Homo sapiens: one gene and its partners. The protein of the gene in region 1 interacts with the protein of each later gene in a pairwise test. Each region holds a gene or a part of one and is shown in the gene's direction. Other genes may lie near its edges.

What was found.
Region 2: the proteins of CFAP298 (region 1) and TAF1 interact in a two-hybrid assay, tested with the Homo sapiens proteins (one large-scale study listed by BioGRID and IntAct).
Region 3: the proteins of CFAP298 (region 1) and MAPK6 interact in a two-hybrid assay, tested with the Homo sapiens proteins (one large-scale study listed by BioGRID and IntAct).
Region 4: the proteins of CFAP298 (region 1) and GMCL1 interact in a two-hybrid assay, tested with the Homo sapiens proteins (one large-scale study listed by BioGRID and IntAct).

The regions. Positions count from the first base shown.
Region 1 is NC_000021.9:32,605,802-32,609,565, reverse strand, and holds part of CFAP298 (cilia- and flagella-associated protein 298), read left to right. Parts: intron 1-1,849; coding exon 1,850-1,917; intron 1,918-3,764. Other genes in the region: CFAP298-TCP10L (uncharacterized protein LOC110091775), read left to right, coding at 1,850-1,917. UniProt on the Homo sapiens protein: Plays a role in motile cilium function, possibly by acting on outer dynein arm assembly. Seems to be important for initiation rather than maintenance of cilium motility.
Region 2 is NC_000023.11:71,369,093-71,372,856, forward strand, and holds part of TAF1 (transcription initiation factor TFIID subunit 1), read left to right. Parts: intron 1-3,764. UniProt on the Homo sapiens protein: The TFIID basal transcription factor complex plays a major role in the initiation of RNA polymerase II (Pol II)-dependent transcription.
Region 3 is NC_000015.10:52,042,964-52,046,727, forward strand, and holds part of MAPK6 (mitogen-activated protein kinase 6), read left to right. Parts: intron 1-814; exon of another isoform or gene 815-2,701; intron 2,702-2,866; 5' UTR 2,867-3,497; coding exon 3,498-3,764. UniProt on the Homo sapiens protein: Atypical MAPK protein. Phosphorylates microtubule-associated protein 2 (MAP2) and MAPKAPK5.
Region 4 is NC_000002.12:69,871,045-69,874,808, forward strand, and holds part of GMCL1 (germ cell-less protein-like 1), read left to right. Parts: intron 1-700; coding exon 701-788; intron 789-3,764. UniProt on the Homo sapiens protein: Possible function in spermatogenesis. Enhances the degradation of MDM2 and increases the amount of p53 probably by modulating the nucleocytoplasmic transport.

The DNA.
Region 1 (3,764 bases):
CTCGAACTCGTGACCTCAGATGATCTGCCGGTCTCGGCCTCCCAAAGTGCTGGGATTACAGGTGTGAGAAAGCAGTTCTTTACGTTTAAAAATTGACCTCGTCATTTCTCTACAGACTTACAAAATACTGTACTCTGTAGCTCCTTTGGTAAAACTCTAATCTAGGATGAATTAGGTAGATAAAGGAAGCTTTTGTCTTGCTCTTTAATAAGTTGCAGCTTGCTTTTATATGTATTCGACGAACCAGATGAAATGACCCTTTCCCTTCTGTAGCTCAAAAATGGTTGAGTATTGGCAATTTCATGTGTTTCCACCTAATAATTGTTGGCAGGTCCTCACCGCAATGTATTCAGAGTTGTGTTTTGTTACTGTTCGCAAATGTTGGGGGATCTTTCGAGATGGACTGTGTGAAAGAGGAAAGGGAAAGCATGTCAGCACATGGACTTCCCTGATCAAGGACATGCTTCTCTCTGGGGCAGAGCACTTCAGTACACGGCAAAACACTGAGGAAATTCCTCTCCTTTCAGTGTTTGGCTGATCATGTGGAATTGATGATAATCCTTTTTGATAGCTTATTCTTTTTAACCTGCATTAAAAGCGCCATTTAAAACACTGTAATTGAACAGCCCTAAAACACTGTTAGGAGTAAAAGAACAGTATTCCTGCAAGGCCTTTAGCAGCTCAAAAATACATTTTTTTAAATATCAGGGATAGTAAGAATTCCTAGTATTTTTTCCTTTCAATGTTAACCTGAAAAATGGTTGTCTTCCACAGCTTTCTTACGTAAGAAGATGTGGTAAGATGAGGAAAAAAAATATGAGAACCAGTTAACAGTTCATTATTCATCATTAAACCAATATGTAATATGTTCTTAAATTAACCACCTTTTTTTTTTTTTTTTTTTTTTTTGAGACAGAGTCTTACTCTGTCACCCAGGTTGGAGTGCAGTGGCACAATCTCGGCTCACTGCAACCTCTGCCTCCCGGATTCCAGTGATTCTCCTGCCTCAGCCTCCAGAGTAGCTGGGATTACACATGCCTGCTACCATGCCCGGCTAATTTTTGTATTTTTCATAGAGACAGGGTTTCAGCATGTTGCCCAGGCTGGTCTCGAACTCCTGACCTCAGGTGATCCACCCATCTTGGCCTTCCGAAGTGCTGGGATTACAGGCGTGAGCCACTACGCCCAGCCTAACCACTTCTATTATAATACAATCTTGTGTTTCTAATATTTTCAATGTCTAATTAATACTGTTATTTACTAGGAATGTATGGTTTCAACTTGCCCCATTTTCCCTAGGTTTGGGCATTCCATCTTCTTCTTTTTTTTTTTTTTTTTTTTGGCTTCTAAGCTTTCAAGTTATTATTTTTTCCTGATCTAGGGGTCACCAAATTATGGGCTACAGGTCAAATTTAGCCAGCTGCCTATTGTAAATAAAATTGTAAGGAGACGCAGCTACCCCAGTTATTTAAGTATTGTCTGCTCTTGTGCTACGTGGCAGAGCTGAGTTATCCCACCCAACAAGACTGTGTGGCCTGCAAAGCCTCAAATTTTACTCTCTGGCCCTTTCCAGAAAAAGTTCACCGGCCCTGTTTACCCAACGACATGCATTTCTGTTTTTTGTAGCCTTTGCCACTTTGCGTAAAGCACACTCCAGGTCTCTGCTGTTGGGAAGAGGTCTTCACCTAACTTCCGGCAGCCAGGTTTCTTGCTTCTCTTCCCTAAATTCCACACTCGCACTCTCTCTCAGTTCATTTACCCCCTGACTCAGACAGAGGGGATTGAGGTATTTCAGAAGAGGCTTTGTATTTGACAGCTCTTTCTCCCTCTCTCCTTTTTATTTTTATAGCTCCAAATGAGAAGATGAAGCAAGTGTTAAAGAAGACTATAGAAGAAGCCAAAGCAATAATATCTAAGGTTGGCTTTTTTAAATGATGCACTAAAACTTGTTGGGTTTTTTTTTTTTTTTTTGGAGATGGAATTTTGCTTTTGTTGCCCAGGCTGGAGTGCAATGGTGCGATCTCGGCTCACCACAACCTCCACCTCCTGGGTTCAAGCAATTCTCCTGCCTCAGCCTCCCGAGTAGCTGGGATTACAGGCATGCACCACCATGCCGAGCTAATTTTGTATTTTTAGTAGAGACGGGGTTTCTCCATGTTGGTCAGGCTGGTCTCGAACTCCTGACCTCAGGTGATCCGCCTGTCTTGGCCTCCCAAAGTGCTGGGATTACAGGCATGAGCCACCGCGCCCGGCCTAAAACTTGTCTTTTGAGATAAAACTCCAACTCTGGCTTCCAGAGTTGCCTCTCAGCCAGCCTTCTCTTTCAGCCTTCCGGAGGCAAAGGAAACAAGCGTATTTGGGGTAGGCTGTAGCTTTTCCTTTCATAATCCTGACGGTTGCCCAGAGGCCTCTCCGTTCCTCCAGGCAGACACAAATTTTTGTTGGCTTATGTAAATATAGGTTCACGTATAATACAAATATGTATAATACAAATGTTGATTTCATTTCTTTTACCTTTTTGAAGAACTTAACAAAGTTAAGTAGGGGAGATTTGAATATTGTGGCCATCGAGTAGCTCTCCAGACACTTGATTGACTTAATATGTATTTGATATAAATGGTTTTTTGTAATTGTCTTCAGCATTTTATACAAAGGCTAGTTTATAGAGGGAGGAGCGTAAATTTATACCATTGATATACAGATAATGTGTATCTGGAGGAAGAGAATTTAAGGCTATTGAAAGAAGTGGTATCTGTATCTGTTGCTTGTATTTGTGTGTTGGTGATATTAGTTGCTACCGCTCTCAACTGCAAGTCTCTTGACTGATCACCACTTTTTCTTCTGCTTCTCCTGGTTTGCTCAGCAGAACTGTTATTTTTAAACCAATATTTCTCAAACTTACCAAGCTTTTGACTAATCTTTGAAGAGCCTCAGCAAAGGCTGCCCTGAAGCTCTGTGCCTGTTAATATAGGAAAGGCTTTATGAAGCTCTACAGGAGAGGCCCTGGTTGAGCCCGTCGTTTGCGTGGTGATGGCATCTAGGCATGTGAGCACGTCTCAGGCCATGGCAAGAAAACAGTGGTCTGGCTGTTGTTCTGCACCCTTCTCCCCACACTTTGCTGTGGAACTCCTCTCTCGGTCGCCTCACTTCTCCCCTTTGCCTGTGTACTTCTGAAAGTACTTTTTATCCTTGGTCTTCTTCCTCTCTCAGTATCTTATCTACTCTGCCAAATGCAAATTCCACCCTCTGCAGATAACTCTGAAGCTTCCATCCTTTCCCCCTGACATCTTGCTTCACTTCCAACCTGAATTTCCAGCTGGTTGTGAGATGGTTCTATCTGAACACCCAGTCAGCACTTTGAAGTCCAGTTTTCTAGAAATGAGCTCTTTGCTTCCTCACTCCTCTCCCTCTCTGTTCTGTCCCTGAGAATCAGCACCTCCTATGAGCTTCTCTGTTTCCAGTAACAGAACCACAGTGTCTTGGTTTTATAGGGCAAATCCTCAGTGTCATCTTCAACACTTCTCCCTTCTGTCACCTCTAGGTTTGAAGTGGGGTTCTGTACCGTCTGCTCCCATGATGCCTCTTAAGTCCACCTCTTCCTTTCACTTCCACAGCTGTGGCTTTCTTTAAGGCTCTCCTGTAGCCTTTTGCATTCTGATGCCCACTGGGGGTCCTGCCAGTCAATTCAATTCCGTTCTGACACTAACTACTCAGAGACAGCACAGACCCCACAGGTCAAGGGCAGATCCTTCAATTCTGACACT
Region 2 (3,764 bases), on another chromosome or scaffold:
GCCTGCCTCGGCTTCCCAAAGTGCTGGGATTACAGGCGTGAGCCACCACGCCCGGCCACATCTGGCCAATTTTTTTGTATTTTTAGTAGAGAAGGGGTTTCACCATGTTGGCCAGATTGGTTTCGAACTCCTTACCTCAAGTGACCCTGCTCCCCTCGGTCTCCATAAGTGTTAGGATTACAGGTGTGAGCCACCGCACCCTGCCTAAAACAATGAACTTGATACCTGCTTGCAAATATGTTTTTTTCCTCTCTGGTATAGGGTGCTACATTGTAGAATCAAAACATCAGACTTAGAAGGTAGAGTCAGTGAGTGGAAGGAGTCTTAGGAATTATTTATTCGTAATCTCTAGTAGAAAAGGAAAACTTGAACTTTAGAGAACTTTATAATAAAATGTGGGATTTTATCAAAAGTAATACAATTAGCTAGTAGTAGACTGACTAATTTAGCTCAGTTCGTTAGACATTGTTTGAGCACTTGTTATGTACTCTAAACTGATAGGCAGTGTGTTTCTTTTTTTTTTTTTTTTTTGAGACGGAGTCTCGCTCTATTGCCCAGGCTGGAGTGCAGTGGTGCAATCTTGGCTCACTGCAAGCTCTGCCTCCCAGGTTCATGCCATTCTCTTGCCTCAGCCTCCCGAGTAGCTGGGACTACAGGCGCCCACCACCACGCCTGGCTAATTTTTTTTTTTTTTGTATTTTTAGTAGAGATGGGGTTTCACTGTGTTAGCCAGGATGGTCTCGATATCCTGACCTCGTGATCCACCCGCCTCGGCCTCCCAAAGTGCTGGGATTACAGGCATGAGCCACCGTGCCTGGCCTAGGCAGTGTGTTTCAAAGATAATGAAGTCCGCTGGGTGTGGTGGCTCAGGCCTGTAAACCCAGCACTTTGGGGGGCCCAGGTGGGCAGATCACGTGAGGCCAGGAGTTCGAGACCAGCCTAGGCAACATGGAGAAACCCCGTCTCTACTAAAAATAAAAAAATTAGCTGGACATGATGTCGTGTGCCTGTAGTCGCAGCTACTCAGGAGGCTGAGGCGTGAGAATGGCTGGAACCCAGGAGGGGCAGGTTGCAGTGAGCCGAAATGATGCTGCTGCATTCCAGCCTGGGCGGCAAGAGCTAAATGCTGTCTCAAAAGATAATGAAGTCCATTTTCTGATCTTGAGAAGTTCAATTTAGTGGTCTGGAATCTAGAGGTATTGGTCCATAGTTCATTTTTGGCACTGCCCTGTTCTACCTCTCACTGCTTGAGACTCCCCCACCCCACCCCACCTGACAGAGTCTCTCTCTGTCACCAGGGCTGGAGTGCAGTGGTGTGATCTCAGCTCACTGCAACTTCCACCTACCGGGTTCAAGTGATTCTTCCACCTCAGCCTCCCCAGTAGCTGGGACTACAGGCATGTGCCACCACTCCCGGCTAATTTTTTTTGTATTTTTAGTAGAGATGAGGTTTCGCCATCTTGGCCAGGCTGGTCTCGAACTCCTGACCTCAGGTAATCCGCCCACCTTTGCCTCCCAAAGTGTTGGGATTACAGGTGTGAGCCACCCCGCCTGGCCTGCTTGAAACTTTTATGTGAAGTTGCTCGTTATTTATTCATCGTCCACCTCTTCGAACTAGATTTCAGGCTTCTGATAAATGTAGATAAAACCTTGGTAAATACTTGAACTTAGTTTTTTCGGGACAGCTTATGGATTTGAGTGCTACTTATATGAAAAGAATTAACTGTGTTGCATATACAAAAAGTAACCCACGAAAAATAGAAGATATAAGCCCTGCCTTTAAGGATATTGTTATCTTTTGGGGAAGATGATGTGAACAAATGCAGAACAATTATTCATAGTAAGACAAACCACCTATGAGATCATGTTTCTGTATATAGAGTGTTACATTTAGTTTTGATGGGCTGCAAGAATAGGTAAGTCAATAGCTGTCATTTTTGGGCACCCTGACTGGGGGGACATGGTGGCAGTTATTTTCAGTAGAAGTTATAATTTCCAGGTTTGTGTTTGTTGTCTTGACTAGGGATGGTAAGGAAAAGGCTGGGAGTTTCCCTAGGTGAGTTTTATGAGCTAACTTCCTATAAAAGGAGGATGCTACATTTGACAGAATCTCAGTACTCTGGGATGCTCATTTCTAAGTTCTCTTGTCCTCTAGGGGTGCCTTCACCTATACCCTTAGTTTTTTCCTTCCTTGGCATTGGCTCCTTTGCATGGCTTGGTTTACAAGGGTGCTTCTTTGGAATAATTGGAAGTGGGTGTAGATTGCTAATAAAGCTTTCATGGAGGTGAATTTTGAGTAAAATTTTGAAAGTGAGGCAAGGTTTGGTGGAGAAGGAGCAGCAGGGGATTTTGGTTTGGAAACACGGCTTGTCTAAAGGTTTGGAGATATTTAGAAATAAGCAAGTAGTGTGTGTGGAGGGGGAATTAGCCAGTAGGTTTTCTTGAAAGGAGTAGAAAACATGCTGCCAAATAGCAAGAACCAAGGATAGAGCAATTTCACAGTACCTTTATGTATGCATTACTTGGGATTTGATGACATAAGGAATTGCAAACCAACATAGACTGTTGAGTGAGAGGCAGGATGGTATAATGAAAAGAAAAGGATTTTGGAGTCAGTGTCCTAGGCTTAGAGTGTCATAGATTCAAATTCCAACTCCATATTTAGTGTGACCCTGAGCAGGTTGCTGAATCTCTGAGGCTTGGATTTCTCATTTGTAATAATCCCCCAGTTTTCTTGTCTGTAGTAAAGGTGATAATATTCACACTTTTGTGAGAATTGAAGTTCATTATCACATGATGTAAAAGCACATAGTATAATATTATGGTAAATGCTCTGTAAATATTAGTTGGCTTTCCTTTTTTTCTGCTTTGCTAGTTTACAGTCTTAGAGGCTTCCCTTTCTGAGGCTTTAGAAGAGTGATACTTGTCGCTCTGGGGTTTTGATTAGTAAAAGAGTGAATGTCACACCAACTTGCAGGCTGTTCTTGCAGGCTAGAGATGTAAAGTTATTAAGGTCCGAAGTAGGGTGACAGTTGTAGAAAATGATACCTAGGGTCAGGCTGGGCGTGGTGGCTCACGCCTGTAATCCCAGCACTTTGGGAGGCTGAGGTGGACGGATAACTTGAGGTCAGGAGTTCGAGTCCAGCCTGACCAACATGGTGAAATGCTGTCTGTACTAAAAATGCAGAAATTAGCTGGGTGTGTTGGCACACATCTGTAGTCCCAGCTACTCGGGAAGCTGAGGCAGGAGAATCGCTTGAACCCGGGAGGCAGAGGTTGCAGTGAGCTGAGATCATGCCACGGCACTCCAGCCTGGGTGACAAGAGTGAAACTCTGCCTCAAAAAAAAAAAAAAAAAAAAAAAAAAGATAGCTAGGGTCAAACTTAGAAGATACTGATAAAGTATCGTAGGACTTGGTTGCCTATAGTCCCAGCTACTCAGGAGGCTGTGGCGGGAAGATAACTTGAGCCCAGGAGTTGGAGGTTGCAGTGAGCTATGATTGAGCTTCTGTGCTCTAGCCTGGGCAACAGAGCAAGACCCCTGTCTCAAAAAAAAAAAAATACAGGGCTTGGTGAGTGAGGAATTGTGTTGGAAAGAGTGTAGGCTTTGTTGTTAAACCAGGCTTGCATTCTGATTTTGTCACTTAAAATTCAGTCTCTTCCGTATCTCAGGATAATTCCTGTTTTGAAGTGTTATTGGGAGGATTATACATAAAACAGCTAGAAATGCCTGGCACATAATGGAAGTTTAGTAGTAGGAAGTTG
Region 3 (3,764 bases), on another chromosome or scaffold:
AAATACAAAAATTAGCCAGGTGTGGTGACTCCTGCCTGTAGTCCCAGCTACTTGGGGGGCTGAGGGGCTGAGGTGGGAGGATTGCTTGAGCCCAGAATGCAGAGGTTGCAGTGAGTGGTGATCACGCCACTACACTCTGGCCTGGATGACAGAGCAATACCCTGTCTCAAAAAACAAACAAACTGGTTTTCCTAGGGTATTTAGTGGGGAGCGAGCAGGAAGAATCAAGATGTGTACAAACAGAAAAAACTTGGTGGGAGGGAGACATGCAGTATTAAAGCCCTTTTTAAAAATCTGAAACTTTTTTACCAATACAAAAATTATTTTTATTTTTTATTTATTCATTTTTTTTGAGACGGAATCTTGCTCTTTTGCCCAGGCTGGAGTGCAGTGGCGTGATCTCACCTCACTGCAACCTCCACCTCCCAGGTCCAAGCGATTCTCTTGCCTCAGCCTCCCGAGTAGCTGGGATTACAGGCACCTATCACCACGCTGGGCTGATTTTTGTATTTTTAGTAGAGACGGGGTTTCTCCATGTTGGTAGGCTGATCTCGAACTCACGACCTGAGGAGATCCACCTGCCTTGGCCTCCCAAAGTGCTGGGATTACAGGCGTGAGCCACCGCGCCTGGCCACAAAAATTTATTTTTATTACTTATTTCCACTATCACATGAGCTAGATCATATAACAACATTGAAAATCCACTGGCTAAAGACCAAAGACAGACTAATGGCTCAGCTAGATAATAGCAAATGATATGTTGGACTTAAGTTGTTTGATTTTTTTTTTTTTTTTTTTTTTTTTTTTTTTTTTGAGGCAGAGTCTCGCTGTGTCCCCCAGGCTGGAGTGCAATGGCAGGATCTCGGCTCACTGCAACCTCTACCTCCCTGCAACCTCTACCTACCTGGTTCAAGCGATTATCCAGCCTTACCCTCCTGAGTAGCTGGGACTACAGGCATGCGCCACCACGCCTGGCTACTTTTTGTATTTTTAGTAGAGACGGGGTTTCACCATATTGGCCAGGCTGGTCTTGAACTCCTGACTTCGTGATCTGCCTGCCTCGGCTTCCCAAAGTGTTGGGATTACAGGCGTGAGCCACCGTGTCCGGCCTTGAGATATTTTTTTAATTCAAAAGTTTATTCACAAACTTCAACTTTTAAGTGTTTTATTACAGATAGACTGGTAAGCTACAGAATTTTTAGGACTTTTTTTTTGGGGGGGCGGGCTAGGAGGGCTGATTTCTGAGAAGCAGAGAAAAACTTGTAGACAGGAGAAGCCGTTTCTGTTACAGTAAAATAAAGCTATTATACTATTAGTATCCTTCATGATATTAAGCAGATACAAGACCCGTTCTTATTTATTAAAAGAACTGAGGGATATAGTAAGTATCAGTTTTTATTAAAGCTGTCTTTCTCCTATTGGACAATGAGTTGCGTTTACTGAGGGCCAGAATCCTTTTGCTCATATCAGGTTTGCTCCTGCCTAGCATATAGTAGTTGCTCAATATATGTTTATATATTAAACGAATAAATTGGTGGCTTTATTCTTTCTGCCTAAAATATTGTCTGGTCTTATTTGTTAGGAATTCTGACCACCTGATTTTCCATAATGCCTCATATCTGGTATTCTGGGTACTCTGCAATTAGGCCATTAAGAAACTGAAAGAACCAAGTTGCATTTTTTTTTTTCCAGGCTGGCTAGGGAACCATCTACTGGAGTTGAGGCTATTTTTTCCTGCCCTTTTATAGGATATTTTTTAAAGTATGAAATATTTTAAGTGTACAGAGATCAATATAATGAACCTTCATATACATACCACCCAGCTCTATAAGATTCTAGTAATCTGCCATGTTTGTTATTTTAAAATAAATAACACATTAAAACGCAGATAAATGATTCTGGTCTCTTTCCTTAATCTCCGGGTAATCATTATGAATTTGGTATTTGTCTCATTTTTTTTTCCTTTTTTTTTTTTTTTTAGTTTTGCAATATACATATGTACTTACCAAAAAAAACTATTTTGCATGCATATAACTACTTATCTGTTCTCCTATTTTATGAAGTTGAGGTTGTTTCTAATTTTCTTTACCAAAAAAAAATGAGCATTTCTCTAGGGAGTTTACTGTGAAGAAAAATGGCCGGGTCATAGAGTACGCTATTTATTTATTCATTTATATGTTTATGCCAAATTGCTCTGAAGTTTTTACTAATTTAAACTCCAACCACTATTGTGTGAAAGTTTGTTTTTCTACACTCCTCAGACTTGACATTAACAGAGATGCATGTTTTTTCAATCTGAAATGTTCTCTTAAGGTAATCTTTTCCTATCAGTCACATTAAATACCTTTTCATAGGTATTATTCATTGTTCAAGTTTACTCTTATAAGTTGAAGAACATTATTTGCATATTTGTGCTGTTAGATTTTTGTTCATTGGATATTGATAGGCATAGTTAATAAGTAAACATGCTTTTTAACAAACTAACACATTGCAGGCTTCTTCTATATTCTTTTAGATATTTAGATAGATGTTACTAACGTTTTACCCCTCACAAAACTCAAGTTCTATAAAAATATTATGAACCTTCCCATACTTGTTGGCATTTCAGAAATGGTACAACCTAATGAGCCTGTTACCAAGAATCTAGTGTAGTGAAATCTGGAGCCCGGGCCAACGTGTGTGAATTGCTGATAACATTTTTGTAAGCTATTTTTGATTAAGGGTAATTTGTCACTTAATGACCATAATTAAGTTTAATGTACCAGTAGTAGTTTATTGCTAAATGCCTACTTTGTGTCATACTACAAATTTGAAGAAAAGAGTATTTCCTGCAATGGTGACTCTCTTCTTTTTCTCATCCCCCCAGGTTGTATCAGAGTAAGATGGACGGTAGCTTTGATTGTGATTGTGGTGAGCTGGAGCCACCTGATCACTAACAAAAGACATCTTCTGTTAACCAACAGCCGCCAGGGCTTCCTGTTGAAATAAATATATAGCAACAAAGGAAAAAAAGAAGCAAAACGGAAATAGTGCTTACCAGCACCTTAGAATGATGCTGCTCAGGACCAGTCCAACACTGAATGTATCTGCACTGTGAGGAGAATGTTCATAGAAGCCTGTTGTGTGCATATTTATTCACATTTTTGTTAAATGTTAAATCGTTTAGCACGGTAATCTGAGTGCACAGTATGTCATTTCATTCCGTTTGAGTTTCTTGTTTTCGTTAAATGTCTGCAGAGTTGCTGCCCCTTTCTTGAACTATGAGTACTGCAATCTTTTTAATTCTCAATATGAATAGAGCTTTTTGAGCTTTAAATCTAAGGGGAACTCGACAGGCCTGTTTGGCATATGCAATGAACATCAAGAAACCATCTTGCTGTGGAAGCATAATTATTTTTCTTCTCCCTTTTTGAAAGATCTTTCCTTTTGATGCCAGTTTTCTTCCTTGTTTACACAAGTTCAATTTGAAAGGAAAAGGCAATAGTAAGGGTTTCAAAATGGCAGAGAAATTTGAAAGTCTCATGAACATTCATGGTTTTGATCTGGGTTCTAGGTATATGGACTTAAAACCATTGGGTTGTGGAGGCAATGGCTTGGTTTTTTCTGCTGTAGACAATGACTGTGACAAAAGAGTAGCCATCAAGAAAATTGTCCTTACTGATCCCCAGAGTGTCAAACATGCTCTACGTGAAATCAAAATTATTAGAAGACTTGACCATGATAACATTGTGAAAGTGTTTGAGATTCTTGGTCCCAGTGGAAGC
Region 4 (3,764 bases), on another chromosome or scaffold:
GGGACTTAAACAGATATTTTTGTATACTTATGTTCATAACAGCATTATTCACAATAGCCAAAAGGTGGAAGCAACCCACATGTTCACTGACAGATGCTAGAGAAACAAAATGTGGTATATACATAAAATAGAACATTATTTAGCCTTGAAAAGGAAGCAAATTCTCATACATGCTAAACATGGATGAACCTGGAAGACATGCCAAGTGAAATAAGCCACTCACAAAGCACAAATATTGTAAGATTCCACTCATACGAAGTACCTAGAGTAGACAAATTCATAGGTACAGAGGATACACTGGTGGTTGCCAGGGCCTGAGGGAAGGGAAAGTGGGGAGTTAGTGTTTAATGGGTAAGGAGCTTCAGCGAGGGAAAATTAAAATGTTCTAGAGATGGGTGCAGAACAATGTGGAAATATATTTAATGCCACAGAACTATATACTTTAAAATGGTTAAAATGATAAATGTTACGTATATTTTACCACAATAAAAACATTTATAAATGATTTCTCTTGGCCAGATATGTATAATAGCACAGGCTTGTCACTGAATGCAGTCAGATTACAGTTTGAAAAGACTTCCTAAAAGTCTTTTATCAAATAAAAAACAGAGGAAAAAGTAAATATGAAAGTAAGGAAGAGCTTGTTTAATCTGTGGTTTAAAAATCTTGTGTTTATTTTTTATTTTTTTTTTAATCCTAGATTACGTTTGGCTTCTTTTGATAGTAGTGGAAAACTAATATGTAGTAGAACAACTGGCTATCAAATACTTACACTTGAAAAGGATCAGGTATGTTCGATTATCTTCTGGTATGTCATCATAATATTTGTCTTTTGAATCCTCTTTTGAAAATTCTTAAGTAGAATTAACATTAAAGTGATGGCATTTTGACCTAAAAGTTGGTTTAAAAGTCTTTTGAAGGTAAAGATGAAAGTACCACATTCACTTATGCATAATTGACCCCATCCCAATGGAAGCATAATTAGGAGAAAAAAAGAAAACACTGTTTGAGGGGCAGGGAAACACTGATTATAAGGAAATAATTGTTTATCCTGAATATCAGCAGCACTAAAATTCATTCCTAAAATTTTAGGAATCTTAAGTGCTTTATCCATTGTGTACATAGTGCATTTATTTATACATTCACAGCAGGCATCTTAAAGACAATCCTGTATGTCTCCATAGCTCCGAATATCATAAGAGCATTATTCTCTAGCCCATTAGGTTCGTAAGATGGCAAACTCTGCAATGTTCCCCAGATTATCTCCAAAGCCATTTATTTATTCATACATCACACACATGGAGAAGTTTCAAAGTGTCATGATGAGAAAGTAGACCATTTTTAAAAGTAAAACTGAAAGCTGTTAAAATATTGAGGAACTTTATTTCTATTAAAAGTAATCATCATTCCAAAGGGCATAATGTTTTATTAAAGGATTCAAAGCCTGTTATAGTTTACATAAATTATGAGAAGTTAGTAGTTTTCCTCAGACTGAAGAGACTATCATAGAACATCCTTAGCATTGCAAGTAACCCCGGAAGTGATCATTGTAACCTCACATGCCCTATATGAGAACTTCTTTTAACAGCATTCTTACAGAGGGGGTCATCCACCCATTGTTGAAACTCTAACTGACCCCCATCTTACATGAAAGGTAATATGTAGGAATGTCCATTTCAAGGCAGGTATATAATGAGAAAGTCCAAATCTGCCTCCATCAGAACTCTCTGTTGGTCCTTCTTGTAACCTCTGCAGCTGAACAGACAATGACTATCTTTATCTTCTACCTGAAACTTCATGAAAAATACTGTCATGGCTCAAACCCAGCCAGAGACCTAAAAAAGCACCAGGCCAAGATAATAGTTGTATTCCCATGTTCCTTCAGCAAACATTTGTGTCCCCACCATGTGCTTGGTTCTCAGCTAGAAGTAGAAGAAATAAAGACAGGCTTGTGTTAATATAGCCTAGTGTAAGTAGCATGATAGAATTAGCTCAGAGTGTGCAACCTTGAGGGAGAAGACTCTGACCTGTAACTGAGCAGCTGCCGTGGTTGGGGGTGGTTATTGGAGGAGGAGGAGAAAGAAAGACAGCTCAGGGAAAACATCCTCTCCTGGAAAAGTGTTAAAGTGAATGCATACCTGAACCAAGCCTCAAATGGTGAGTAAGATTTCCGGAAGCAAGGGAATACATGGGTCATATTCAAGGAACTGAAAGATGGTTGGAAGAGTTCAGTATAACTAGAGCCAGGGCATGAGGGCTGTGGATGGAGTTTGGGAGATTTACTTTGGGAGTTGTCTCCGTGTTTTATATAGGTTATAGATGTTGTCGAAAAAATAGAAAATATGAGTCAGCTGAAACAACAATCATACATGTACCACTCAGATACATTGCTGAGTTTTTCCTTCACCTGTATCATTTTTGCAAAATTGGATCACAGTAGGTTAGCTATTTTGTAACCTGCTTTTTTTTTTAATGGTGAAAAACATATATATTTAGAATTTGCCAGCTGGATTCAACTTAGATGATCCCAATTTTTTGGCAGCCTCTAAAAGCAGCATGCTCAGGAGCCAGCTGAACATGGGCTTTCTTCTCTCCATCAGCCCTGATCACGGTGTTGATCTTGGCCACATTGGTGTCATAGAGCTCCTCCACAGCCTGTTTGATCTTATGCTTTTTGACCTCGACATCCACAATGAACACAAGTGCATTGTTGTCCTCTGTCTTCTTCATGGCCAAGTCAGTGGCCTGGGAGAACTTGTTGGTCGCATAGTGGTCAGGCCTGGGGGAGAGGCAAAATGGGGTCACCTGGCCTGGGCCCAGTAGAAGAAAGGCTTGGTCCTCTTTCAGAGCCCAAGGCCAGGTGAGCCTAGGTGCATCAGACAGTGAGGTAGTAATTGTAACCTTTTTTTTTTTTTTTCACTTTGTTGTACATAGCTTTTTTTGGTCAATAAATATATATTCACAGCATCATTTTTATGAACGGCATAATATTAGTTGTTTTGGCTATACCGTAACTTAGATAATTCCTCTTTATTGGATAAAGTTGTTTCTCATTTTTTTTCATTACTATAGGAAATATACATATATCTTTGTCCATTTTTATGATATTTTTAAAGCATAAATTCCAAGAAGTAGAATTCTTGTTGCATGGTGCATACAATTTTCTAATGGCCAAATTGCCCTCCAAAGCTACTGTCCAATTTATACTTCCCCCTGGCAGCAGTACAGGAGAGTATACCCAATATTGTATCTTATTCTTTTTCATCTCTATCCCAGCGTAGTAAATGTGAAAACAAATATTTGTTTTAATTTTCATTTCTTTTTGTTTGTTTGTTTTGAGACAGAGTCTTGCTCTGTCGCCCAGGCTGGAGTGCACTAATTTTTAGTAGAGACAGGATTTCACCATGTTAGCCAGGCTGGTCTTGAACTTCTGGCCTCAAGTAATCCACCTGCCTTGGCCTCCCAAAGTGCTGGGATTACAGGTGTGAGCCACCGCGCCTGGCCCTTAATTTTCAATTTTCATTTCTTTGGTTACTGTATTGTTGGGTTTTTTTATGCTTATTGAACGTATCATCTCATGTAAACTGACAGCTTATATTGTTCCTGTTTAATTTTTTATTAAAATTTCATTTTTTTCTTGCTAATTTTTAACAGCTTTTATATATTAAAAATACATTTGTGATACTCTATAGTTTTTACTTTTTTTTTTTTTTCCGAGACAGGTTGTCACTCTGTCACTCAGGCTGGAGTGCAATGGTACAATC